3 separate regions of the Homo sapiens genome follow, and all the other regions are linked to region 1. Evidence: fine-mapped expression QTL. A gene starts in region 1. Each other region holds a variant in brackets. All regions are shown on one strand. Distances are between the middles of the regions.

Region 1 (7,722 bases):
TATAAATAACTGAGACTTTGTCACCAGGGATAGAGAAGTGGCTGCTACTTTGTAAATTGGACAGGAAGGTGGCCACTATAATCTGGAGATTAAGCGATGGGGATTAGGGATAGAGATGCTTTTGTGATGTGGATCAGATCAAATACAGATGGGTGAAAGATGATACTTCCTAAGCAGGATGCAATTATTCAGCAAACTAATCTGTGTTGTTCCTGCCCCTGGGGACAGAGCTGGGAGCAAGAACAACAGGTCCTCCTCTCATGCACTCACAGCCTATGAGATGAGCAAAAGCCAATAATCAAGTAAGGAGGCTACGCATGCACAATGGCTTATGGCTGTAATCCCAGCATTTTGGGAGGCCAAGGCAGGCAGATCACTTGAGTTCAGGAGTTTGAGACCAGCCTGGGCAACATGGCACAACCTCACCTTTACAAAAAAATTAGCCGGGCGTGGTGACATGCGCCTGTGGTCCCAGCTACTCAGGAGGCTGAGACAGGAGAATGGCTTGAGCCCAGGAGGTGGAGGTTGCAGTGAGCCAAGATTGTGCCACTGCACTCCAGCCTGGGTAACAGTGCGAGACTCTGTCTAAAAAAAAAAATAGATAAAAAAATAAAATTAAATTAAATTAAATTTAAAAAGAAATTCAAAAATAAGAAAAATTTTACAGGCTAGGTATAGTGGCTCGCGCCTGTAATGCCAGCAGTTTTGGAGACCCAGGCGGGAGGATCACCTGAGTCCAGGATGTTGAGCCTGCACTGAGCCATGATGGAGACACTGCACTCCAGCCTGAGCAACGGAGCAAGACCCTGACTCAAAAAAAAGAAAATAAAGACAAGTATCAAGGCAATGGTTTGTAGCTAGAAACACAGAGCATCCTGACCCAACGGCACCAAGGAGGGAAAAGTATTAGACACATGCTAATACTTCAGACAAAGAATTTGTTTTTTTTTTTAGACGGAGTTTCGCTCTGGTTGTCCAGGCGAGAGTGCAATGGCACGATCTCGACTCACCGCAACCTCCGCCTCCCGGGTTCAAACGATTCTCCTGCCTCAGCCTCCCGAATAGCTGGGATTATAGACATGCCCCACCACGCCCGGCTAATTTTGTATTTTTAGTAGGGATGGGGTTTCTCCATGTTTGTCAGACTGGTCTCAAACTCCTGACCTCAGGTGATACACCATCCTTGGCCTCCCAAACTGCTGGGATACAGGCGTGAGCCACCACGCCCGGCTGACAAAGAATTATTATCCCCATTGTAAAGATGAAGAAATTGAGGCTTAGAGTTTAAAATCTTGCTTAAGTTTTGTAGCTCTGAGAGGGGAGAGAAAGCCTGTGTGGGAAGAAGCAGACAGGAAAGGCCTTCTCAGAACACGACTGGATCTGAAAACCCCTCACCTGTCCACACCTGAGGCGGCTCCTCTTCCTGCTCTCGCTCAGCCTCCTCCAAAAAATCTTCCAGAAGCTTCTCTGCTTTTTGAGCCTCAGCACTCCCTGGGGCCGCCCAGCCCAGAAAGGTTCGGACACTGCCCAGGTCCGAATGGGCAGGGTGGTCTCGGAAATCCTGAGGGTGGTCCTGCAGCCAGGAGCCCAGCACTGACACCACAGCCCTGGCCAGAGAGGCAGGGTCTCAGAGCTGGGTCCAGAGTGGGGGACATAGAATATGACTCCTGGTACCTTTTTTTTTTTTTTTTTTTTGAGATAGAGTCTTACTGTGTCACCAAGGCTGCAGTGCAATGGCCTGATCTTGACTCACTGCAACCTCAGCCTCCCGAGTAGCTGGGACTACAGGCATGCGCCACCACACCCAGCTACCTTTTTTTGTTGTTGTTGTATTTTTAGTAGAGACAGGGTTTCGCCATATTGGCCAGGATGGTCTCTAACTCCTGACCTCCAGTGATCCACCTGCCTCGGCCTCCCAAAGTGTTGGGATTACAGGCATGAGCCACCACGCCCCACCTGACTCCCAGTCTCTTATTACCCAACCTGCAATTTTCAAAACCCCAGTCCGACTGCTAACCTTTGACCTCTTGGATTTCCCTCCCCGCACTCCCCTATCTGGATGAAGGACCCACCTCAGGTTCTTGTTGAAGCTCAGATCTTGTACCGCTGTCTTCTTGATCTCTACCCTGGGAAGAGGCCCCCCAGCAGGTGAAGAAGGGGGAACCTAGAGGGGGCTTAGGAAGAGGGCTCTGGGTCTGGGAGGTGTTTCCAGGTTCCACACCTGAGGAGGTGGAGGGGGGTGCCCAGTTGGGGTTCTAGGGTGGAGAATACGGAGGTTATGGTTCGCTACTGACCCGGGAGGTGGGGGCGGTGGCATTGGTGGCAGCAGAAAGCCCAGCAGGCAGGCAGTGGGTACAAAGGTCCGGTAGGTGGCCAGGAAGGCGGGCATGAAGCTGGGGTCCTGCTCACGGTCTCCAAACACCAACTCTCCCACCAGCCGCTCCAGGCGCGCTGCCCTCAGCACCCTCACCTTGCTGGTTCGATAGTGGAGGAAGGTATTGGCAATGGGGCTGGGAGCCTGCAGGAGGGGAGAGGTGGCCATGAGAGAGCAGGAGTGGTCCTCACAGCACCCCTTCTCTAGTCACATTCATCACTAGCACCACTCTTTTTTTTTTTGTTTTTTTTTTTGAGACAGAGTCTCACTCTGTTGCCCAGGCTGGAGTGCAGTGGCACGATCTTGGGTCACTTCAACTTCTGCCTCCTGGGTTCAAGCAATCCTCCTTCCTCAGCCTCCAAGTAGCTGAAACTACAGGCGCACACCACCAAGCCCAGCTAATTTTTGTATTTTTGTAGAGATAGGGTTTCACCATGTTGGTCAGACTGGTCTCGAACTCCTGACCTCAAGTAATCTGCCCCCCTTGGCCTCCCAAAGTCTCCCAAAGGGCTAGGATTACAGGCGTGAACCACCGTGCCCAGCCCCTAGCACCACTTTTTTTTTTTTTTTTTTGAGACAGAATCTCACTCTGTCACCTAGGCTGGAGTTCAGTGGCGTGATCTTGGCTCACTGCAACCTCCGCCTCCTGGGTTCAAGCAATTCTCTGCCTCAGCCTCCCAAGTATCTGGGATTACAGGCACCCGCCACCAAGCCCAGCTAGTTTTTTCGTATTTTTAGTAGAGACGGTGTTTCACCGTCTTGGCCAGGTTGGTCTTGAACTCCTGACCTGATGATCCACTTGCCTCGGCCTCCCAAAGTGCTGGGATTACAGGCGTGAGCCACCTCGCCCCGCCTGTAGCACCATTCTTTCATGTGATTCCTCTGTCTCCCGGCTTCTTGGAGTTATTGTTTTGGTTTGTTTTTTTTAGAAACAGGTCTTGTTTTGTTGCCCAGGCTGGGGTGCAGTGGCACAATCATAGCTCACTGCAGCCTCCAAGTCCTAGACTCAAGCGGTCCCTCTGCCCCAGCCTCCTGAGTAGCTGGGACCACTGCTGGGCATCATCACGCACAGCTAGTTTTTTAATTTTTATTTTTATTAGAGAGAATCTTGCTGTGTTGTCCAGGCTGGTCTCCAATTCCTGGCCTTCTGCCTTGGTCTCTCGAAGCGCAGGGATTATAGGTGTGTGCCCCACTCCCTGCCCGCTTGAAGTTATTGTTCCTCCCCATCCACAAATAGCTCCTGCAACTTGCCCTGGAAACCCTCCCTCTCCCATGCCCTGTCCCCTACTCCCTCTCCCGTCCCCTCCCCCTCCCGTCCCCTCCCCCCACCCCCCCGCCCCCGCCCCACACACTCTTTTCCACCCAGGGCTTCCCTCAGCCCTCCTGTCGCGCTTCACTGGCTGCCCCATCCGCCCTCACCTAGCCACTTCTAAACCAACCCCATTCCACCTTCCAGCCCCGGCCCTCTAAACCTGCCTTTCCCAACTCTGCCGTCCAGTTCTGTCCTTACCAAGTTGTCCCTAGGCTCCTCTCGGGAACTGCGCGGCCATCGCCTGGCCCCACCCCATTCCCTGGATCTCCCCCCACTTACCTGGCCGCCCCCAGTCCCCTTTCTACCTGGTCGCCTCATCTGGTCGCCTCCGAGCCCCTCCCTTCCTTCCGCCCACTGCACCTGGCGGCCTGTGCTCGGCTCTCCAGCTCCGCCCTCAACTGGTCGCTTCCGGCCCCGCGCCACCCACCAAACCCCCTCCTCACCTGGCTGCCCCCGGGGCCCTCCGCCGGGCTCCTGCGCTGACTGCGCTGCCGCCGCAGGGAGACACTGTACACCGCGCCGTCCTCGGTCTCTTCACCCCAGTCCTGCAGCGGTGCCTGGACGCACAGGCGGACTCAGGGCACCAAAGGGGCACAGGTCCTGGGGCCTCAGCCTCCTTGGCCGCTCGGACTCGGGCCGAGTCCTCCTGCTGCATCCCCACGCCCCTTCCCGGCCAGAAGCTGCGAGACTAGGGCTGGGGTCCCAGGCTAGTCCCCTCCTCGCTGCGGGTCCCCTCCTCCCAGGTCCTGAGGACATGGGGTGGCATTTGGGGATGTCCCAGGGCCCAGTCTAATAGAACCTGTCTCTAGCTCTTTCTGCCGACTGCGCTCAGAGACTCGCGCCCCCATCCCTAAGAGGAACCAGTCGCTTCACTGGGTCAAGGGCCGCGAGTCCCCAGGAGGGGACTCCAGGGCAAGTTCAGATTGGGAGCAGATACCGTCCGACGGGCGGGCGCTTGGAGTTTCTGGACCTGCGGGTCACCAGGGATGCGGGGTCCGGGGATCCCTTGTCCCCTTACCAGGGCCAGCTCTTTGCCTGCTGTGCGCTCCATGGCCGGCGCCCGTCCCTCTCAGTGGCGCCGCTGAGTGAGGCGGAAGGGCCGGCGGGTGGCGGGTGGCGGGCGGCGGGCAGTGGCCGGGCGCTGAGGCCAGAGGGGCGGAGCGGCCGAGCTGCTGGGGCGGGGCGGGGCAGGGCAGGCCGGACCCAGCCTCTGGGTGCCTCCAGCCGGACCCAGCGCCAGCCCAGGAGAGGTCCTGGCTCTTCCGCTGGGTGCCTATCAATCTGTCCCCAGAAGAAAGGACATATCTGTCCCCAAGGGGTCTTTTTTGTATCCCCAGATGTGGGGGAGCTCCTGTGTGGGGGCATGTGTGTGTCCCCAGACCAGAGTCCTCTGTCCTCCAGTGGAAGGGGCTAGCTTGATCAAGTGTGGGGGCATCTTCCACTTTTTATTATTATTGCTATTATTTTGAGATGGAGTCTCGTTCTGTCACCCATGCTGGAGTACAGTGGCTTGATCTTAACTCACTGCAACCTCCGCCTCCCAGATTCAAAGGATTCTTGTGCCTCAGCCTCCCAAGTAGCTAGGATTACAGGTGCCGCCACCATGCTCAGCTAATTTTTGTATTTTTTGTAGAGGCGGGGTTTTGCCATACTTGCCAGGCTGGTCTCAAACTCCTGGCCTCAAGAGATTCGCCCACCTCAGCCTCCCAAAATGCTGGGATTACAGGCATGAACCACGGCGCCCAGCCTTATTATTTTTTAGAGACAGGGTCTCACTCCTGTTGCCAAGGCTGCAGTGCAGTGGCTTGATCTTGGCTCACTGCAATCTCCGCCTCCTGGGTTCAATCCATTCTCCTGCCTCAGTCTCCCAAGTAGCTGGGACTACAGGCATATGCCACCATGCTCAGCTTTTTTTTTTTTTTTTTTTTTTTTTTTTTTTTTTTTGGTAAAAACTGGTTTTCACCATGTTGCCCAGGCTAGTCTGGAACCCCTGGGCTCAAGCGACACACCCAGCTCAGCCTCCCAAAGTGCTGGGAATATAGGTATGAATGAGCCACTGCACCCCGCCCTTATTTTATTTATTGAGACAGGGTCTGGCTCTGTGGCCCAGGCTGGAGTGCAGTAGCACGATCATAGCTCACTGCAGCCTGGAGCTCCTGGACTCAAGTGATCCTCCCAACTCAGCCTCCCAAAATACTGGGATTACAGGCATAAAACCACTACATCGGGCCATCTCCCATTTTTAAGCTCCATCTGCGTCACTAGCTGATGGGAGTCATCATGACCCAGGTTGGAGGAGGCAGTCTGTGGCCCTGGGTTTTCAGGGACAGCCGTCTCTTGGGTGGTGCAGGGTCAAAAACAGATGAATACCCAGGGGCATGGTCGGTAACATTTATTGCGCAACTCTGAGGCCGGGGCGGACCCAGCTGGGGAGATTTACTGTGGGAACGTCTGGCCCGGCCCCTTCCTCCCCTCCGGGCGCCGCTGGCCGCCTCCGTTCCCGGTCCGGGCCGCGTTCAGCCCCTGAAGGGGCCCCGTGGGGCCTGCGCTAGACCCGGAGGGATCGGGGGCTCCGAAGGGGGCCGCCTGGTGGGTGTCAGGACGAGTCTAGGACCTCCGAGAGCGACGGTGCTTCTTGTGACTTTCGATTAATTTCTGGGAACGGATCTTGAGTGATGCGCGGGTCACTACCTCGTTGTCCTCCTCCTCACTCTCTTCGTCTAAGGGGGGTGGGGGGATGAGCAGGGAGCGATGTGGGATCCAGGTCCCCATCCCTGGCTCCCCTTCCCTTTACCACCCCACTCCACCCCCACCTTGGCCCTGAACAGGGTATCTGACAACCTCCTGCTACCCAGCTTGGGGCCCCAACCGCACCCCTTCATCCCCCCACCCATACTGACCAAAAAACTTGTCCTTGGAAGTGGCAAGGGGCAGGGCGATGCGGGTGTTGTATTCGGGCAGCCTTCCCTCTAAGCTGGCGAGGAACTAAGCGGGGATGGGAAGCGAGAGAGGAAGGTGGGCGGGGCCAGGGGCCACCGAGAAGTCACGTTCCCCCTCCTCCCTACCCCATTCCGAGATATGCCCTAGTTCCAACTGGAGACCACTGCCCACTCCCATCCCTCCTTAAGCAGGCACCTTGATACCCAGCTTCACCCCCTCATCACTCAGGTCCGCCCCTGGTCTCTGGGGCCCTGCCACTAGGCCTCTCCCCATCCGGATACCCCAGCCGCGTCCTCTAGCCTCACAGGACCCGCCTGCACCTCTTCTGGTTTCTTCCCTCGTGGCTCGGGCTCACCCCTGGCTCGTCAAACCTCGCCCGTTGTCCCCGAGACCCCTTCCTGGCTGATCAGCCTGCAATCTGGTCTCCCGAAGTTGCCCCCGGTTCCCTGGTTTTCCGACCCAGCCCTACTCCTAGATCTCTGGAGCTCTGCCCCATGGCTGCAGGGCACCTCGCGGTTAGCGATGTGGCACAGCATCTCCTGCACGTCGTGGCCCTGGAGCTGCGCCTGCAGTTTCAGCAGCTTTTCCTCCACGAGGCCCAGCAGGTTTGGCACATAGTTATCTGCCTGGGGATCCAGCTCCTTTCCCGCGAAGCGGCCGTCCTCCTGCGGCCAGGGTAGAGCCGGGTCAGCCGAGAGGGGTGGGGCCTCTTGGAAGGCTCCACCCAGGGGCGGGGCTTTTCTTTCGGGGGCGGGGCCTAGGAGGTAAGGGCCCACCTGCAGGGTCGATCCTAGCCATTGGGGGCGGGGACTTAGGTCAAGGCCACGTCTGTGATGGGGGAGCCTCTGAACTCTAACTCTATATGTAAAGGTTTCGGGGAGGCCTCTTGGGAACAGTAAGGATTCGAGGGAGGCCATTGTGGGATGGCCTCCTGAAGAAATGGCCCTCTGCTGCGGGCAGGATAGGTCTTCTGTCTCGGGCTGCTCCAGAACTGCAGATAGGTCTCCGAGCTTTTCGGGGACAGGGTGGGACTTCTTTCCCTTGGAGGCGGAGCTTGAGACGGGACAGGGTCTCTGACGTCTTGGGCTTCCTTGGG
Region 2 (10,445 bases), 88 kb before region 1:
GAGTCCCCATGGTCCGCAGCCTCCCACCGGGGCTGCCTGAGGAACCTGGCAGCCACGGCGACATTGTGAAGGAATGAGCCATGCAGGAGTCGGGGAGCAGTTGACAGGAGGGAAGGGATTGCCCTGAGCTTGGAGATAACCACTGTGGCTCACGCCTCGATCACAGTCCCTGCCGAGGCAGGAGAGGGGTGGGTGGGGGGTTGGGGGCCATCTCTAGCAGCTGCAGCTGCTGGGCTGGGGGGCTGGAGCATCCCCCACGGCCGGGCCTTTCCCGTTGCTGCCTGAGCTGGAGCTGGGTTCCAGGGACTCGTTCATCTTCTCGCAGATGACATCCACCAGGCGCTCGAAGACCTGCTTCACATTGATGTTCTCCTTGGCACTGGCTTCAAAGAACTCGAAACCTGGATGAATGTTAAGGTGGGGACACTCGTAAGACCCCTGAGGGCAGAGTCTCAGCTGTGGCATCACAGAAACCTGGCTTCTAAGCCTAGTTCTGCTCTTTATCCTGCTGTGGGACCTTGGTTGTGTGCCTTTGCCACTCCAAGCCTCAGTTTGCTCACCTGTAAAATGGGAATGATGATCCTACCAATGATAAAAATCTGTGGCAGGCCAGGCGCAGGGGCTTATGCCTGTAATCCTGGCACTAAAGGAAGCTACGGCGGGAGGATCGCTTGAGGCCAGGAGTTCAAGACCAGCCTGGGCAACATAGCAAGGCCCTATCTCTACAATAAATTTTTTTAAAAAGTAGATGGGCGGCCAGGTGAGGAGGCTCATGCCTATAATCCCAGCACTTTGGGAGGCCGAGGCGGGAGGATCATTTGAGGTCAGGAGTTCAAGACCCGCCTGACCAACATGGTGAAACCCCATCTCTACTAAAAAGACAAAAAATTAGCTGGGCATGGTGGCACGCGTCTGTAATCCCAGCTACTCGGGAGGCTGAGGCAGGAGAATTGCTTGAATCTGGGAGGCGGAGGTTATAGTGAGCTGAGATCACACCACTGTACTCCAGCCTGGGCAACAGAGCGAGATTCTATTAAAAAAAAAAAAATAGAGGGGCATGGTGGCGTTCACCTGCAGTCTCAGCTACTCGGAAGGTTAAGGCAGGAGAATGGTTTGAGCCCAGGAGGTCAAGGCAGCAGTGAGCCATGATCACACCACTGCACACCAGCCTGGGTGATGGAGCAAGACCCTGTCTCAAAAACAAAACAAAACGAAACCCTGCGGCTGCAGCCATGGTCTGGACAATCCTAAGATCTCTTTGTCACAAGGCAGTGGCTGCAAGAGTATAGGTGGGAGGGTACATGAAGAGTTCTGCTGCCCTGCGGCCATGGCAGTGCCCACAGGTGGCTATAGCTCAGCTTCCACCCAATTTCTGCTGCACAGAAAGGCATGGTCAGGAGACCCATCAAGTCACATTTTCCATTGCTTTTTTTAAAAGAGAAACGGTCTCTCTCTATTGCCCAGGCCGGGGTGTAGTGGTATGAACATGGCTCATTGCAGCCTCAACCTCCTGGGCTCAAGCGATCCTCCCGCCTTGGCCCCCTGAGTAGCTGGGGCTACAGGTGTGCCCCACCATGCCCGGCTAATTTTTCAATTTTTTCTTTTGTAGAGGTGGGGGTCTCGCTATGTTGCGCAGGCTGGTCTTGAACTGCTGGCCTAAAGCGATCCCCCCGCCTAGGCCTCCCAAAGTGCTGGGTTTACCAGCGTGAGCCACCACGCTGGGCTTCCTGCATCCTTTTAAGGTTCCTGAGGGTCTGCCTGAGAGGAGCTGTCCCTGAATCTCCATGCAGCCCCACCTGCCACATCACCAAGGTAAGCCAGGAATTCAGACAAACGCCTGCCACGTTACACGTGGCCAAGGGTAAGTGGACCTGTCTTCTCTGTGCGTCATGCTGAACTATGAAAATGGAATCATAATGAGTTAGCTGTGTAATTACCCATTTATTATCTGTCTCCGCTACTAGAAAGCCAGCTCCAGGCAGGCAGGATTTCCGCCCATGGCTGTACCCAGTGCCCGACACAGAGAGGGTGCTTAGAAACTGTCTGCTGAATGGTTGAATGAATGAATGGGTAAATGAACAATAGCAGGGGCAGGACATGAACTTAGATCTCCTACTGTCAGCCCAGAGATATCAAAGCCATCCCACTGTCTTCCTGGGCAAATCTGGTGTTTCCTTATCCACGCGTGGCTTTGCCTCATACCATCTGTGTTCTTTATTTTTCTTTTTGTTGAGACAGAGTTTTGCTCTTGTCGCCCAGGCTGGAGTGTAACGGCACGATCTCAGCCCACTGCAACCTCCGTCTCCCGAGTTCAAGCGATTCTCCTGCTTCAGCCTCCCAAGGAGCTGGGACTGCAGGTGTGAACCACCATGCCAGGCTAATTTTTGTATTTTCAGTAGAGACAGGGTTTCGCTATTTTGGCCAGGCTGGTATCGAACTCTTGACCTCAGATGATCCACCTGCCTCAGCTTCCCAAAGTGCTGGGATTACAGGCATGAACCACCGTGCCCAGCTTATTTTTCTGATATTAATCAGGCGTGGTGGTATGCGCCTGTAATCCCAACTACTCAGGAGGCCAAGGCAGGAGAATCACTTGAACCCAAGAGTTCAAGACCAGCCTGGGTAACATAGGGAGACCCTGTCTCTAAAACAAATAAAAATTTTAAAAAGGAAAAAAAATACATTTTTTGGATGTCATTCAATAGAGAAATTTACTGGAGAAACTAGAAACTACAGAAAAGTATTAAGACAGCCTATAATCCCAGTACTTTGGGAGACTGAGGCAGGTGGGTACCTGAGCTCACAAGTTTGAGACCAGCCTGGGCAACATAGCAAGACCCAGTCTCTAAAGAAAATATAAAAATTAAGGCCAGGCATGGTGGTTCACGCCTGTAATACCAGCATTTTGGGAGGCCAAGGTGAGCGGATCACTTGAGGTCTGGAGTTTGAGACCAGCCTGGCCAACATGATGAAACCCCGTCTCTACTAAAAATGCAAAAATTAGCTGGCCATGGTGGTGCACACCTGTGATCCCAGCTACTTAGGAGGCTGAAGCAGGAGGATCACTTGAACCTGGGAGGCGGAGGTTGCAGTGAGCCGAGATTGTGCCATTGTACTCCAGGCTGGGTGACAGAACAAGATATTATCTCAAAAAAAAAAAAAAAAAAAAGAAGAAGGTTGGGGGGTGCCAGGCGTGGTGGCTCACGCCTGTAATTCCAGCACTTTGGGAGACGGAGGTGGGCGGATCACGAGGTCAGGAGTTCGAGACCAGGGCCAATACGGTGAAACCCCGTCTCTACTAAAAATACAAAATTTAGCTTTGTGTGGTGGCACGTGCCTGCAGTCCCAGCTACTCAGGAGGCTGAGGCAGAAGAATTGCTTGAACCCGGGAGGTGTAGGTTGCAGTGAGCCGAGATTATGCCACTGCACTCCAGCCTGGCAACAGAGCAAGACTCCATCTCTAAATAAATAAATAAATAAATATTAGCCAGGTGTGGTGGCATGCACCCGTAGTCCCACCTACTTGGGAGGCTGAGGTGGGAGGATGACCTAAGCCAGGGAAGTTGAGGCTGCAGTGAGCTGAGGTCATGCCATTGCACTCCAGCCTGGGCAACAGAGTGAGACCCTGTCTCAAAACAAAAACACAAAGAAATGTATGGAGATAGAGATAAAAGTAATTTGTAATCTCATCACTTGGAAACAATTACTGTTGGCGTTTTGCTATTTAGCTTTCTAGTCTTTATTCATCTTTTTTTTTTTTTTTTTAAGACAGAGTCTCCCTCTGTTGCCCAGGCTGGAGTGCAGTGGTATAATCATAACTCACTACGGCCTTGACTCTTGGGCCCCCCTCAGTCTCCCAAGTAGCTGGGACTATAGGGGTGTGCCACCACACACAGCCGATTTTTGGTATTTTTTATAGGGGTGGGGCTTCACCATGTTGCCCATGCTGGTCTCTAACTGCTAGACTCAAGTGATCCTCTGCCTTGACCTCCCAAAGTGCAAGGATTACAGGCATGAGCCACCATGCCCAGCCTTTAGTCTTTTTCTATATAAATATGTCATTTGTTGGGGTTAGGTTTGTAGGGGATGTGTGTGTGCACATGTATGTGTGTCTGGCTTTTTTTCCTACAAAATTGGAATCAGGCCAGGCGTGGTGGCTCACACCTGTAATCCCAGCAGTTTGGGAGGCCGAGGCAGCGGATCACCTGAGGTCAGGAGTTTGATACCAGCCTGACCAACATGGTGAAACCCCATCTCTACTAAAAATACAAAAGTAGCCAGGCGTGGTGGCACATGCCTGTAATCCCAGCTGTTCGGGAGGCTGAGGCAGGAGAATTGCTTGAACCTGGGAGGCGGAGGTTGCAGCGAGCCAAGATTGTGCCACTGCACTCCAGCCTGGGCAACAAGAGCGAAACTCCATCTCAAAAAAAAAAATAAAACAAAAGAAAAGAAAAAAAAATTGGGATCAAATTCTGTGTCCTGCTTTGTATGCCAATCTTCTTTTTGTGTGTGTGTGAGATACAGGCTCACTCCATCACCCAGGCTGGAACGCAATGGCGCGATCTTGGCTCATTGCAACCTCCGCCTCCCGGGTTCAAATGGTTCTCATACCTCAGCTTTCCAAGTAGCTGGGATTACAGGCACGTGCCACCACACCCAGCTAATTTTTGTATTTTTGGTAGAGACAGGGTTTTACCATGTTGGCCAGGCTGGTCTCGAACTCCTGACATCAAGTGATCTGCCCACTTCAGCCTCCCAAAGTGCTAGGATTACAGGCGTGAGCCACCGAACCTGGCCTGTACTCCAATATTTTAAACATAATAACAGAAAGTGAGAATCCCCCTTTACCCCGAGACCCCAGATATAATCCGCAAGTAGGTGTGGAAAGCACCTCCAAGTATTCCAGCCCATCGCGGGCGTTAACTGATTTCACCACTTCCAGGCTAACTGGGGATCCAGGGCCCTGCCCCACAGAACAGAGATCCAGTTTCTCCAACAAAGCAATGGCAAGAATAAAAGGGGAAAGGGACTGGTTATGGCTTAGAGGTCAGCAAACCTCCTCTGTAAAAGGCCAGATCGTAAATATTTTAGGCTTTCTGGGTCATATGGTCTCTGTCTCAATTACTCAATTTCACGCTTGAAGCACTGTTTATACCCTTTTCTGTATTGAGACAGCCTGTAATCACAGACGTGTGATTACCATAAAAATAGCAACCATAGACAATGCATCAACAAATAGGCATCAACTGAGCACGGGTGTGAGTTCACTCCTGTGATCCCAGCACTTTGGGAGGCCAAGGTGGGAGGACTGCTTAAGCCCAGGAGTTCAAGATCAGCCCAGACAACATGGCAAGACCTATCTCTTAAAATTTTTTTCTTTTTTGAGACGGAGTCTCGCTCTCTTGCCCAGGCTGGAGTGCAGTGGCACGATCTCGGCTCACTGCAACCTCTGCCTCCCAGGTTCAAGCAATTCTCCTGCCTCAGCCTCCTGAGTAGCTGGGATTACAGGTGTG[T/C]ACCACCACACCCGGCTAATTTTTTTGTATTTTTAGTAGAGACGGGGTTTCACCATGTTGGCCAGGGTGGTCTCAAGCTTCTGACCTTGTGATCCACCCGCCTCGGCCTCCCAAAGTGCTGGGATTACAGGCATGAGCCACTGCGCCCGGCAAAAAAATTTTTTTTTAATTAGGCAGGTGTGGTGGAGTACACCTGGCATCCCAGCTACTTGGGAGGCTGAGGTGGGAGGATCACTTGAGCCCAGGAGTTGGAGGCTGCTTTGAGTTATGATCGTGCCACTGCACTCCAGCCTGAGCACCAGAGAGAGACCTTGCCTCAAAAAAAAAAAAAAAATTTAAAAAATAAATGGTTGGGAGGTTGAGGCGGGTGGATCACCTGAGGTCAGGAATTCCAGACCAGCCTGGCTAACATAGTGAAACCCCATCTCTACTAAAGATACAAAAATTAGCCAGGCCCCGTGGTGGTGGGTGCCTGTAATCCCAGCTACTCAGGAGGCTGAGGCAAGAGAATCACTTGAACTGGGGAGGCGGAGGTGGCAATGAGCCGAAATCACGCCATTGCACTCCAGCCTGGGCGACAAGAGCAAGACTCCGTGTAAAAAAAAAATTCTTTTAAAAGGGTATAGCTGTGTCTCAGAAAAACTTCATTTATAGATACAAATTTGAATTTCATATAAATTTCCCATGTCATATTATTTTTTTTCAACCACTTAAAAATGTAAAAACCAACCAGGTGCCGTGGCTCATGCCTGTAATCCCAGCACTTTGGGAGGCTGAGGCAGGCCGACTGCTTGAGCCCAGGAGTTCAAGACCAGCCTGGGCAATATAGTGAGACCTCATCTCTACAAAAAATAAAAATAAAAAATTAGCCAGTGTGCTGGCTTATACTAGTAGTCCCAGCTACTTGAAAGGCTGAGGCAGCAGAATCACTTGAGCCCAGGTGTCTGAGGCTACAGGGAGCTTTAAACTTATTTTGTAGAGTTGGGGTCTCACTATGTTGCCCAGGCTGGTCTCTAACCCCTGGGCTCAAGCAATCCTCCCTCCTCAGCCTCCTAAAGTGGTGGGATCACACCACTGTACTCCAGCCTGGGTGAAAGAGTGAGGCTCTGTCTCTATTATTTAAAAAACGACGACGACAACAAAACAGCTGGAGTTGCATAGTGAAGTGTTTACAGACAAAAGGTTTCGATGTCAAGGGTTTGCTCTCAATGCTCTAGGAAAAAAAGGAAAAGTATTTTGGGGGAATAGATGATTCAAGATTGAAAAAATGTTGAGACCTAATTAAGCTGAATAATGTTTTATCAAAGTCTATTATACATTCCTTTCTACTTGTGAATGTATTTGAACTTTTCTTAGATGGAGTTTCACTCTTCTTACCCAGGCCGGAGTGCAATGGTGCGATCTCAGCTCACACAACCTCCGCCTCCTGGGTTCAAGTGATTCTCCTCCCTCAGCCTCCTGAGTAGCCGGAATTACAGGCATGCGCCACCACGACCGGCTAATTTTGTATTTTTAGTAGAGATGAGGTTTCACCATGTTGGTCAGGTTGGTCTCAAACTCCTGACCTCAGGTGATCCGCCTGCCTCGGCCTCCCAAAGTGCTGGGATTACAGGCGTGAGCCACCACGCCTGGCCGAACATTTCTCATTTTATTTCATTGTTTTTTGAGACAAGGTCTCACTCTGTCACCCAGGCTGGCATACAGTGGTGCAATCTTGGCTCAATGCAACCTCTGCCTCCCAGGCTCAAGCGATCCTCCCACCTCAGCCTCCTGAGTAGCTGAGACTATAGGTGTGAGCCACCATGCTTAGCTAATTTTTGCATTTTTTTGTAGAGACAGGGTTTACCATGTTGACCAGGCTGGTCTCAAAGTCCTGGGCTTCAGCGATCTACCCACCTTGCCCTCCCAATGTGCTGAGAGTATTTGAACATTTTTATCACAAAAAGTTATTATTTTCTTCCTTTTTTGAGACAGGGTCTCGCTATATTGCCCAAGCTGGTCTCAAATTCTTGGCCTGAAGCAATCCTCCTAATTCAGTCTCCAGAGTAGCTGGGATTACAAGCACATGCCACCATTCCTGGCCAAAGTTATTTTTTTAAAAAAGTGTAGGCCGGGACTATAAAAACCAACCAGGTGCAGTGACTCCATCTCAAAAAAAAAAAGTGTTAAGAACATCTGTGAATCAAGCTGGCAGATTTCTTGCCTCATGTGTCCAAAGAAATATATGTAAAAATGACTGCTGCAGCTGCATTTGTCAGAGGAAAAGGCTAGAAATAATCTCCATGGCTGTCAACAGAGGAAAAGGTTAAGGAAACACGAAATGGAATAGTACACAGCCATGCAAAAGAATGAGCCAGCTCTGGGGCTGATGGAGAAATATTTCTTTTTTTTTTTTTTTTTGAGAAAGAGTCCTGCTCTTCTACCCAGGCTGGAGTGTAGTGGCGTGATCTTGGCTCACTGCAAGTTCCGCCTCCCGGGTTCACACCATTCTCTTGCCTCAGCCTCCCGAGAAGCTGGGACTACCGGCGCCCACCACCACGCCTGGCTAATTTTTTTGTATTTTTAGTAGAGATGGAGTTTCACAGTGTTAGCCAGGATGTTCTTGATCTCCTGACCTCATGATCCGCCCTCTTCGGCCTCCCAAAGTGCTGGGATTACAAGCGTGAGCCACTGCGCCCGGCAGAGAAATATTTCTAGGATATATTATTTAGTAGAAAAGTTCAAAGTGCAGGAAAGGGTATATACAGTAGGGAACATCTGTGTAAAACAAAAAAGTAGCCAATGTGTTGTCAATGCCTGTGGGTGCTCAGCATATTTCTGGAAAGAGATACAAGAATCAGAGAAGCTGGGAGACCAGAACTGCAGGTGGGGAGTGGGTTATTGCCTTAGTCTCTTCCTGTGCCTTCTGAATTTTGCACATAGGGTGCTGGCTTGGATGGGGCTTATGGGAAAGCTGGGGTTAAAAACTGATTGCAAGCATCAGTTTCTTTCTTTCCTTTTTTTTTTTTTCTTTTGAGACAGAGTCTCCCCCCATTGCCCAGGCTGGAGTGCAGTGGCGTGATATCGGCTCACTGCAGCCTCCACCTCTCAGGTTCAAGTGATTCTTCTGCCTCAGCCTCCCAAGTAGCTGGGATTACAGGCGTCTGTCACCATGCCCGGCTAATTTTTGTGCATTTTTAGTAGAGACGGGGTTTTGCCATGTTGGCCAGGCTGGTCTAGAACTCCTGGCCTCAGGTGATCTGCCTGTCTCAGCCTCCCAAAGTGCTGGGATTTCAGGCATGAGCCACCACGCCCGGCCACAAATAAAGTTTTATTGGCAAACAGTCACACCCATTCATTTATGCATTGTCTGTGGCTGCTGTCATGCAGAGTTGGGTAGTTGCCATAGAGACTGTATGGCCAAAAATATTTACTATCTGGCCCTTTAAGAAAAGGTTTGCTGACTCCTGGACTAAAGAAAGCAGTCGTATCCACTATTTTGCTAGAACAAAACAGCCAGGCACGGTGGCTCACGCCTGTAATCCCAACACTTCGGGAGGCTGAGGCAGGTGGATCACCTGTCAGGGGTTCAAGACCAGCCTGGCCAACATGGCAAAACCCCATCTCTACTGAAAATACAAAAATGAGTCAGGCATGCTGCGCACACCTGTAATCCTGGATACTCAGGAGGCTGAGGAAGGAGAATCACTTGAATGCAGGAGGTAGAGGTTGCAGTGAGCCAAGATCGCACCACTGCACTCTAGCCTGGGCAACAGAGGGAGACTCCATCTCAAACAAAAACAAAAACAAACCATAAAGAACATCCCCTTGGGCTGGTGTGGTGGCTCATGCCTGCAATCCTAGCACTTTGGGAGGCTGAGGAGGGAGGATCACTTAAGGTCAGGAGTTCGAGGCCAGCCTGGGAAACATAGCGAGACCCTATCTCCACGCAAAATTAAAAAAAAAGGCCAGGCATGGTGCCTCACGCTTGTAATCCCAGCACTTTGGGAGGCCAAGGCGGGCAGATCACGAGGTCAGGAGATGGAGACCATCCTGGCTAACATGGTGAAACCCCATCTTTACTAAAAATATAAAAAATTAGCTGGGCATGTGGCACGCGCCAGTAGTACCAGCTACTTGGGAGGCTGAAGCAGGAGAATTGCTTGAACCTGGGAGGTGGAGGCTGCAGTGAGCCAATACGGCACCACTGCACTCCAGTCTGGGTGACAGAGTGAGACTCCAACTCAAAAAAATAAAATAAACCTGGGAAGCGGAGCTTGCAGTGAGCCGAGATCGCGCCACTGCACTTCAGCCTGGGCGACAGAGCGAGACTCCGTCTCAAAAAAATAAAAAATAAAAAAATAAAGAACATCCCCATCCTTTTCCATGGCTGCATAGTATTCCACCATGTGAATATACTTTATGTCCACTTGGTTCTCCAACTGTGAGACACCTGGGGGGGATCTGTAGGTTTCACTCCTACTAATACTACTACTACACTCCACACACCATATCCCACATGGGTGAGGATATCTCTAGGATCAATTTCCAGAAATGGTTTTGCTGGGTTCCCAGGGGATAGGCAGTGGGGCAGTGGGAGTTCCTGCGCGTGGATCCCCTGCAATTAGACGGGACATGTGGCATACACATGGGTATCTTCCTGGGCAGATCCTCAAAGGATCAGTGACTGGGTTGGACCCTGAATCAGAGGATGGGGATGAGGGTTTGGTTCTGGGAGACCAGGGCCTGTGGCCCAGGCTGGGCACTAACCAAGGTCGTCGGCGAGCCTCCGGCCATCCTCAGCAGGCACAACACGTTCGTCCTCCAGGTCACACTTGTTCCCCACCAGGATGACCTGGGCGTTGTCCCAGGAGTAGGTCTTGATTTGCGTGGCCCTGCAGAGTTACCAGTGGTGAGCCATGAGCCGGGGGGGTTAGGGGTCAGAGGAGAGGG
Region 3 (10,445 bases), 23 kb before region 1:
GGGGCTCTGCTTGCATGGGATGGGGGAGCTGTTGGGATATAAGCCTATGCCTCCACAAGGTATGAGCCTGCCTTGGAGTAGAGCTATATATATATATATGTGTGTGTATTTTTTTTTTTTTTTTTTTTTTTGTAGAGACGGAGTCTTGCTCTGTCTCCCAGGCTGGAGTGCAGTGGAGCGATCTCGGCTCACTGCAACCTCCGCCTTCCAGGTTCAAGCAATTCTCTCGCCTCAGCCTCCCAAGTAGCTGGGATTACAGGTGCATGCCACCACACCCAGCTATGAGTACAGCTATATTAAATAAAATATTATTTGGGCTACTGTAACAGCAACTCAAATAATAGTGGCTTAAGTAAGATAAAAATTTATTTCTCTTTTATGTAACACTCCAAGTATCAACAGTCCAATATGGTAGCTCCCTGGTCTCATAGGCCCAGGCTCCTTCTAGCTTGTTGCTCAGCTATTCAGACAGTGTGAACCACCTAATCCAAAATGATCCACTCCACGTCTTCATTCCCACCAGCAGGAGGGAGGAAAGGGGGAAAAGAAGGACACACCGCTTCCCTTTAAGGGCAGGTTCTGAAATTTGTTCACATCCTTTCCCTTTATATCTTATTGGCCAAGACTTAGCCAGTGGCCAGATATGACCACACCTTGCTGCAGAGGAGGTGGGAAATATGGCTTTTACTTTGGGAGGCCAGCTAAAAATCAGTGGTTCCATTACCATAGAAGAAGGTGATTAAATTTGAGGGGACAATGGACTATCTCATTCTCAGAGCAAATCAGAGCAAAGAGACAGCAAGAAAACCCTGATGACATCTTATGAGTGCCTGGATGCAACTGTGCCTGAAGCCCTACTCATTGGACATTTCAACTGCATAAGCCACAAATGTCCTTTTTTGCACATGCCTCTTTGAATTGGGTTTTTGGTCGCTTGCAACAGAAAGAACTCGATTAGTGCAATGAGATGTAAAGACCATAGCTGATGTTCTCTGCTGAGTAGGAGCTCATAAGTGGGCATATTATTGTGGTTGTGACTATGTAGCAGTTCGCCCTACAGCTCATTTCATCCTCTCTATTGTACTCCAACGCTGACAGAGAGCTCACGCCTCTCTTTTCATCCTCACAATCCTTTTCTTTTTCTTTTTTTTTTTTTTCCAGACAGAATTTTGCTCTTGTTGCCCAGGCCGGAGTGCAGTGGAGCGATCTCGACTCACTGCAACCTCTGCCTGCCTGGTTCAGGTGATTATCCTGCCTCAGCCTACCGAGTAGCTGGGATTACAAGAGCCTGCCACCATGCCCGGCTAATTTTTTGTATATTTAGTAGAGAAGGGGTTTCACCATGTTGGCCAGGCTGGTTTTGGAATCCTGGCCTCAAGCAATCCACCCGTCTTGCCCCCCCAAAGTGCTAGAGCCACTGTGCCCAGCATTTTTTTTTTTTTTTTTGAGATACAGTCTCACTTTGTCACGCAGGCTGGAGTGCAATGGCATGATCTCGGTTCACTGCAACCTCCACCTTCTGGATTCAAGCAATTCTCCTGCCTCAGCCTCCTGAGTAACTGGGATTACAGGCACCCACCACCATGCCCAGCTAATTTTTATATTTTTTAGTAGGGACAGGGTTTTACCATGTTGGCCAGGCTGACCTTGAACTCCTGACCTCAAGTGATCCGCCCACCTCAGCCTCCCAAAATGATGGGATTACAGGTGTGAGCACTGCGCCTGGCCCTTTTTTTTGCTTTTTGAAACAGGATCTCGCTCTGTCACCCAGGCTGGAGTGCAGTAATCTCGGCTCACTGCAACCTCCACCTCTTGGGCTCAAGTGATCCTCGTGCTTCAGCCTCCAGAGTAGCTGAGACTACAGGTGCAGGACACCAAACCTGGCTAAATTTTATTTTATTTTTTGAGATGGAGTCTCCCTCTGTCGCCCAGACTGGAGTGCAGTGGTGCGATCTCGGCTCGCTGCAAGCTCCGCCTCCTGGGTTCACGCCATTCTCCTGCCTCAGCCTCCCGAGTAGCTGGGACTACAGGCGCCCGCCACCACGCCCGGCTAATTTTTTTGCATTTTTAGTAGAGACGGGGTTTCACCTAGCCAGGATGGTCTCGATCTCCTGACCTCATGATCCGCCTGCCTCAGCCTCCCAAGTGCTGGGATTACAGGCGTGAGCCACCGCGCCTGGCCAATCTTTGTATTTTTTTGTAGAAATGGGGTCTCACTATGTTGCCCAGGCTGGTCTCAAACTCCTGGGCTCAAAATCCTTCCACCTTAGCCTCCCAAAGTGCTGGGATTACAGATGTGAGCCACCACACCCAACCTCTTTTTCTCTTCTTTGCACAGATGGGTTATCTGTGACAGGAAGAGGAAGAAGGTGAGGGCAAGTGAAAGGGCCCATCCTCACAGCCCTTATTGACTCATGGGTAATGATGCTATTTGTTTCTAATTCTGATGGAATTTCAGTTAGTCACTCTCCCATATATACAGTAGAAAAGAGGCATATCACCCCAAAAATGTTGGGGAAGGAAGTCCTAAACCCTCTTTGTGTGATAGGATCCTTTATTTATTTATTTAGTGAGATGTGATCTCACTGTATTGCCCAGGCTGCTCTCGGACTCCTGAACTTAAGCAATCCTCTTACCTCAGCCTCCCAAAGTACTGGGATTACCCTCCTGAGCCACTGTGTCCGGCCAGACAGGATCCTCTCTGGCATCTGGGTTGAGTGTCATACCCGACTCAACACCTTTCTTAGGGCTCTTAGTTTTTTTGTTTTTGAGACAGGATCTCCCTCTGTCCTCCAGGTTGGAGTGCAGGGGCCCAGTCACTGCTCACTGCAGCTTCAACCTCCCAGGGCTCTGGTGATTCTCCCAGCTCAGCCTCCCAAGTAGGTAGGATTACAGTCTCATATCACCACACTCAGAAAATTTTTTGTTTGTTCATTTGTTTGTTTGTTTGTTTTTGAGATAGGGTCTTGCTCTGTCACCCAGGCTGGAGTACAGTGGTGTGATTTCCACTCACTGCAACCTCCACCTTCCGGGTTCAAGCAATTCTCCTGCCTCAGCCTCCCCAGTAGCTGGGATTACAGGTGCATGACACCACGCCCGGCTAATTTTTTGTACTTTTAGAAGATGGGGTTTTGCCATGTCGGCCAGGCTGGTCTCGAACTCCTGACCTCAGGCGATCTGCCTGCCTTGGCCTCCCAAAACGCTGGGATTACAGGCGTGAGTCACCACGCCCAGCCAAATTTTTGTATTTTTTGTAGAGACAGGATCTCGTTATGTTGCCCGGGCTGGTCTTGGCTCTTAGGTTTCTCTCTCTCTGTGTGTTTGTGTGTGTGTGTGTGGGTGTGTGTGTGGTAGCTGTTTTCCTTTATCTTGATAAAGGGTGAACATGGCACACAGGCGCAAAATAAACAAGACTGACACCTGTTTCATAACTCTGGTCACTATTTTCATCCGCATCTGTCACTTCTGATGCGTCTCTAACATTTATAAGATTTCTCTGGGGAGGGATTTGACGTATCCATGCCCCACCTCTTTCTACATTTATGGGATTGAGCTCTCCACCAGCCACCCATGGGCTGATGTCTTTGGAATATGGATCTAGTACCAACAGAGTCAGAAAAAGAGATGGGGTCCAATGGGCTACAGTTGGGTGGTGGTCCTGGGATACACAGCACAGTGGCCTCTACTGGGGGATGGCAGCTTTCCAGGAGAAGAGTCGCAAGCTTGCCTGTGGGACTTGTGTCTTGTGGAGAGGACAGGGCTGCCTCAGCTTGGGGAGACAGACAGAGTGTTCCGGGTCCCCTCTTTCCGCCGCAGCATGAAGTCTCTGGGGGCGACTGGACTCATGGCATAGAAGACGTTGGCATTGTCAGGAATCAGGAGCACTGGTCAGGAGTGGAGATGGTGGTAATAGGCCCTCACAACCTTGTGTCACCCCCACAGAGGACCCGGGAGCCTCCTGCCACTCACCCGCGAACCTGAACAGCCATGGGTCCCTCTGCAGCTACTGCCAAGCCAAGCTCATTCTGCTGTCACTGGGAACCTGGACGACTTCTCACTTGAAAACTTGCACCACCTCATGCCTTCCCTTATCATAAGCCTGGGCAACCTCCTAATATTCTCCCCCTCACCATAGAGACAAGGCAACCTGCAGTAAAAGTTTGAGCAAACTGGCCGGGCGCGATGCCTCGTGCCTGTAATCCCAGCGCTTTGGGAGGCCGAAGTGGGTGGATCACTTGAGGTCAGGAATTCGAGACCAGTCTGGCCAACATGGTGAAACCCCGTCTCTACTAAAAATACCAAAAAAATGAGCTAGGCATGGTGGCACATGCCTGTAATCCCAGCTACTCGGAAGGCTGAGGCAGGAGAATCTCTTGAACCCAGGAGGTGGATGTTGCGGTGAGCCGAGATCCTGCCATTGCACTCCAGCCTGGGCAACAGCACGAGACTCCATCTCAAAAAAAAAAAAACAAAAACAAACAAAACCGACAACCTGCAGTAAAAGTTTGGGCAAACTTAGACCACCCTAGACCACCCCCCGCCAAACAACTTCCTGCTCACCCTACCCCTCCCCCACAACCACTCCCAGCCAATCCCATGCTGCTGTCACCATGAACTTGAATAACTTCCCACTTCCAGCCTGCACGAGCTTGTGGCCTCACACTCAACACCTGAACAACCACAAGCATCCTTTCCTAATATCCAGCCAACCTCATGCCATGTACTTCAGCGTGAATACGCTCAATCCCTTGCTTCTCCCTGTCAGACAGGACAATCTCATGCTTCCGCGGCTATCCATTTGCCTCTCTCCCGTCCCAAGTTCAGATAACTTCAGGGTCCCAGTGGTGAACAAACTTAGTTCTCACAAATCTAAGCCCAGATGCCCTTTAGTCTCCCATCCCATCAGGTTGAGCCTGAACAATCTCATGATGCTACAAACTTAAGATCAGACAAACTTCTACACTCCCTTCTCTCACTCGACCCTAGACAATCTATTTTTTCTTTTTTTTTGAGACGGAGTCTCACTCTGTCGCCAGGCTGGAGTGCAGTGGCGCAATCTTGGCTCACTGCAACC[T/G]TCACCTCCTGGGTTCAAGTGATTCTTCTGCCTCAGCCTCCTGAGTAGCTGGGACTATAGGCGCCTGCCACCATGCCTGGCTAATTTTTTGTATTTTTAGTAGAGACGAGGCTTCACCATGTTGGCCAGGATGGTCTCGATCTCTTGACTTCGTGATCCACCCGCCTCGGCCTCCCAAAGTGCTGGGATTACAGGCGTGAGCCACCATGCCCGGCCCCCTTTTTTTTTTTTAATTGAGACAGGGTCTTGCTCTGTCACCCAGGCTGGAGTGCAGTGGCGTGATCTCAGCTCGCTGCAGCCTCCACCTCCTAGGCTCAAGTGATCCTCCCACCTCAGCCTCCCCAGTAGTTGGAGTTGGGAATACAGGCACATGCCACCATGCTCAGCTAATCTCTCTCTCTCTCTCTCTCTCTCTCTCTCTCTCTCTATATATATATATATATATATATTTTTTTTTTTTTTTTTTTTTTTTTTTTGAGACAGAGTCTTGCTCAGTCGCCAGGCTGGAGTGCAGTGGTGCGATCTCGGCTCACTGCAACCTCCGCCTCCTGGGTTCAAGCGATTCTTCTGCCTCAGCCTCCCGAGTAGCTGAGACTACAGGCATGTGCCACCATGCCCAGCTAATTTTTTTGTATTTTTAGTAGAGACGGGGCTTCACCATGTTGGCCAGGCTGGTCTCGAACTCCTGACCTCAAGTGATCCACCCGCTTTGGCCTCCCAAAGTGCCGGGATTACAGGCGTTGAGCCACCGCACCCAGCCAATTTCTCTATTTTTTGTATAGATGGGGTCTCCTCATGTTGCCCAGGCTGGTCTCAAACTCCTGAGCTCAGACAATCCACCCACCTTGACCTCCCAAAGTGCTGGGATTACAGTTGTGAGCCACCATGCCCAGCCCATCCTACAAATTGAAGGTCAGAAACACTCCCTTCTGTCACTTGTCCGTGGACAGTCTTTTTTTTTTTTTTTTTTTTTAAACAGAGTCTCGCTCTGCTGCCCAGGCTGAAGTGCAGTGGTATGATCTCGGCTCACTGCAACCTCCGCCTCCCAGATTCAAGCAATTATTCTCCTGCCTCAGCCTCCTGAGTAGCTGGGACTACAGGAGTGTGCCACCACACCCGACTAATTTTTGTATGTTTCGTAGAGACGGGGTTTCACCACGTTGGTCAGCCTGGTCTCAAACTCCTGACCTCAAGTGATCCGCCCAGCTTGACCTCCCAAAGTGCTGGGATTACAGACATGAGCCACTGCGCCTGGCCGGACCCTGGACAATCTTATTGTCTTTTAAATTTTAGGAAGATGACCTTTGGTACCTCTCTCTCACACTGAGCCAAGACAATCTCATGACCCTACATCGTTGGGTTACAGGTATTTTATGTCCTCTTACCTCCACTGATTATCTTACCCCTACTCTCTGCCTGAAGCACCTCACAGCCCTGTGAACCCGGGTAACCTTGGGCTCCATCCTTGGGCGTGGTCAGTCTGCTCGCCTCCCCGCTGCCCCCTATCCTGAGCTCCAACCCATCCCTGCTCACCCCGGTCCCCAGGAAGGACTTGAAAGAGCTGATAGTCACAGGCCCAGGGCTGGGGCACATTGTGCTTCTGCAAGGCTCGCCGGACCACGCTGGGGGCTTTGTCCTGACTGGTCAGCTGGAAGAGAGGGGCGGGAGGTGAGGTGAGGGCCCCGGCCCCAAGGGCAGGGCAGCCTCCAGCAGACCCCCAGCCCAGCCCCTCACCAAGATGCTTCGATACAGGTTCCCGTGGTCATTGTCGATGCTGACGCGGATGACACGGGCCTCCGAGCTCTGCTGCGCCGGGAGGGGGATTCGAGGGCTGCCCAGAGGCAAAGCGAAGGGCCGGGGGCTGGGCAGGTCCAGGCTCAGGGGCAGCTGCAGGCAGTAAGGGGTGGAGGCTACAGCTTGGCCCATCTGCAGATGCTGAGGGCTAGAAAAGCACGAACACCCCAGCCACCACTGGTGCATTCAATAGCCCCACATTTAAAATCTCAAGAAAACATTGGCTGGGCGCAGTGGCTCATGCCTGTAATCTCAGCATTTTGGGAGGCCGAGGTGGGCGGATCACTTGAGGTCGGGAGTTCAAGACCAGCCTGGCCAACGTGGTGAAACTCCGTCTCTACTAAAAATACAAAAATTAGCAGGGCCTGGTGGCGCATGCCTGTAATCCCAGCTACTTGGGAGGCCGAGGCAGGAGAATCACTTGAACTTGAGAGGCAGAGGTTGCAGTGAGCCAAGATCACGCTACTGCACTCCAGCCTGCGTGACAGAGCAAGACTCCATCTCAAAAATAAATAAATAAATAATAAAATAAAATAAAATCTCAAGAAAACATACTACTACCCCCTACACATGCAGAGCCTGGGACATGCAACTGGAGTACATTCACAAGCCTGCATATACACCACCCTACCATATACAGACTTTGGTTACCTGTTATAGAAACAGACATGAACAGTGTCCATATACACACAACCCATGCTCATACACAAGAAATCCTGTGTACATACATATGCTGACAGCGGTTATACACCCACAGCCCATGCCAATGAACAACCCCACACATGATCTCATGAATACTCAGGCCCACATTTCCTCTTCTGGTACACAGATTCTTTTCTTTTTCTTTTCTTTTTTTTTTGAGACAGAGTCTTGCTCTGTCACCCAGGCTGGAATGCAGTGGTGCCATCTCAGCTCACTGCAACCTCTGCCTCCCAGGTTCAAGCAATTCTCATGCCTCACCCTCCCAAGTAGCTGGGATTACAGGCCTGTGCCACTATGCCCAGCTAATGTTTTTATTTTTAGTAGAGACGGGGTTTCACCATGTTGGCTAGGCTGGTCTCAAATTCCTGGCCTCAAGTGATCCACTGGCCTCGGCCTCCCAAAGTGCTGGGATTACAGGCATGAGCTACCATGCCCAGCCTTCATTTCCTTCATTTCCTTTTCTTTTTTTGTTTTTCTTTTAGAGGGAGCCTCGCTCTGTCACCAGGCTGGATGGAGTGCAGTGGCACCATCTCAGCTCACTGCAACCTCCGTCTCCTGGGTTCAAGTGATTCTCCTGCCTCAGCCTCCCAAGTAGCTGGGACTACAGGTGTGCGCGACCATACCCAGCTAATTTTTCTATTTTCAGTAGAGACAGGGTTTCACCACGTTGGCCAGGATGGTCTCGATCTCTTGACCTCGTGATCCGCCCACCTCGGCCTCCCAGAGTGCTGGGATTACAGGCGTGAGCCACCGTGCCCAGTCTCTTTTTCTTCATAAACAGGATCTCGCTCTATCATGCAGGCTAGAGTGCCGTGGCATGATCGTAGCTCACTGCAGCCTCAAACTCAAGCGATCCTTCCACCTCAGCCTGCTGAGTAGCTGGGACTACACCCAGCTAATTTTTTTGACTTTTAATAGAAATAGGGTCTCACTATGTTGCCCAGGCTGGTCTTGAACTCCCGGCCTCAAGCAATCCTCCCACTTTGGCTTCCCAAAGTGCCGGGATCACAGGCAATAGCCACCGTGTCTGCCATGGTATGCAGATTCTTAGGGACATACATGTCCTCAAAAAAGTGTAGGCTGGGTGCGGTGGCTCACACCTGTAATCCCAGCACTTTGGGAGGCCGAGGTGAGTGCATTGTTTGAGCTCAGGAGTTCGAAACCCACCTGGGCAACATGGCGAAACCTCATCTCTACTAAATAAAAAAAATAGCAGGGCATGGTGGTGCACACCTGTGGTCCTAGCTACTTGGGAGGCTGAGGTGGAAGGATTGCTTGAGCCTGGGGGAGGGGTGGAAGTTGCGGTGAGCTGAGATTGCACCGCTGCACTTCAGCCTGGGTGACAGAGCAAGAAGACCCTGTTTCAAATAAAAAGGGGTGTGATGTGATTGCACCCTAGATGACCCATGGGCAAGCAGTTACACAGGTCCAAATCTGAGCACGAGTCGGATTTATGAGTGATCACCCAAACAGGGCCGTGCAGATGCATGCAATCCCCTGGATGGATACCCCGGGCGCTCAGTGTGCCTCCTGTATACACTCCTGGCCCCACAATCCTGTGTGTACACATGTGCATGCACACACACGTGCACACACACAGAGCCTGGGTGCCCGCAGGCCCGCATGCACACACAAGCCGTCTTGGTACCTTGGTGCTGGGGCCCTGGGGCCCTGGAGAGGCCGGGGGACTGCCAGCAGGAGCATCTCTGCTTCTAGGACTTGAGGGGGGTGACCCTGGGGACACACTGGGGGAGATGCAGAGGCTGAGGTGGGGTGGCTGTGCTGACTCCTGATCCCATGATCCCCAGTCCCATCACCAAGCAGAATGCTCACCTGGAGGTGGGGGATGAGGGGTCCCCGGGACTCCCACTAGGTGATGAGCTTTTCTCTCGGGCAAGCTTCCTAAGGATGGGGACAGGGGATGAGGCTAAGGCAGGAGCAGCCCTTGCTGATATCTGCCCACATCACCGCCCCTACACACACCCCGAGACTCACGCACTGAGACGCTTGGTGAGGCTGATCCGCCGTCGGATGCGTGGGGAGCTGGGGCAGGAGGCAGCTGGTGGCTCAATGACCCGGGAGAGCCGGTAGCTGAGGGGTCAATATGTGGATGAGGTGGTGGGGGCAGGAAATACAGGGGATGGAGAGATAAGAGTTGGAATCAGTTGGGAGGTGGGTTTGGGGTGTAAGGGGGAGCAGCCAGAGGTGGCACCCCACATGCCAGGGTCAGGGTGGTAAATGAGGGTCATTGAGCATCAAGGTCTTATCAGAGATGGGACAGGATGGCTGGTCAGGAGGTCACAAAGAGATTCACAGGGTGGCACTAAGGAATCAAATTGGGTCAGGATTAAAGTCAGGGTCAGGACTGGGTGCAGTGGCTCACGCCTGTAATCCTAGCACTTTGGGAGGCTGAGGCGAGAGGATTGCTTCGGGTCAAGAGTTCGAAACCAGCCTGGCCAATATAGTGAAACCCCGTCTCTACTAAAAATACAAAAAAAATTAGCCAGGTGTGGTAGCTCGCGCCTGTAATTGCGGCTACCGGGGAGGCTGAGGCAGTAGAATTGCTTGAACCTGGGAGGCGGGGGCTACAGTGAGCCGAGATCACTCCACTGCACTCCAGCCTGGGAAACAGAGCCAGACTCTGTCTCAAAAATAAATAAATAAATAAATAAATAAATAAATAAATAAATAAATAAAATAAAGTCAGGGTCAGACTGGGGTCAGGTCACCATTGGGGTCAATGGTTAGGGTCACAGTTATATAGAAAGAAAGGACACAGTTGTCATAGTCAAGCTGGACAGTCAAACATAAAAGTTGGAGTCAGTTACTCAGAACTGAGGGTCAAGGGTTGGGGTCAGAGAGTCAGATGAGGGGT

Evidence for each region. PIP is the estimated chance that this variant, and not a neighbour inherited with it, causes the effect.
Region 2: its variant is fine-mapped to the expression of RGL3 in whole blood (TOPMed, PIP above 0.99).
Region 3: its variant is fine-mapped to the expression of RGL3 in lung (GTEx, PIP 0.92).

Annotation. Positions count from the first base shown.
Region 1 is chr19:11,414,542-11,422,263 of GRCh38, forward strand. RGL3 (ral guanine nucleotide dissociation stimulator like 3) reads right to left here and starts at 4,773. Exons shown (of 19, transcript NM_001035223.4): 1 at 4,705-4,773; 2 at 4,130-4,243; 3 at 2,295-2,518; 4 at 2,073-2,126; 5 at 1,396-1,607. The coding sequence starts at 4,737. It overlaps ODAD3 (outer dynein arm docking complex subunit 3), which reads right to left. Exons shown (of 13, transcript NM_145045.5): 11 at 7,136-7,291; 12 at 6,587-6,671; 13 at 6,064-6,406. The coding sequence ends at 6,294. RefSeq lists an enhancer at 6,833-6,882.
Region 2 is chr19:11,325,185-11,335,629 of GRCh38, forward strand. It overlaps RAB3D (RAB3D, member RAS oncogene family), which reads right to left. Exons shown (of 5, transcript NM_004283.4): 4 at 10,263-10,387; 5 at 1-401. The coding sequence ends at 214. It also overlaps a transcript of TSPAN16 not described here. Among named protein-coding and RNA genes, the nearest start is that of TSPAN16-AS1, 9.1 kb to the left of the region's middle. The variant T/C (reference allele first, on the strand shown) is at 5,514.
Region 3 is chr19:11,390,637-11,401,081 of GRCh38, forward strand. It overlaps RGL3 (ral guanine nucleotide dissociation stimulator like 3), which reads right to left. Exons shown (of 19, transcript NM_001035223.4): 14 at 9,566-9,661; 15 at 9,404-9,472; 16 at 9,219-9,315; 17 at 6,809-6,961; 18 at 6,608-6,722; 19 at 3,424-3,884. The coding sequence ends at 3,766. Among named protein-coding and RNA genes, the nearest start is that of EPOR, 12 kb to the left of the region's middle. The variant T/G (reference allele first, on the strand shown) is at 5,075.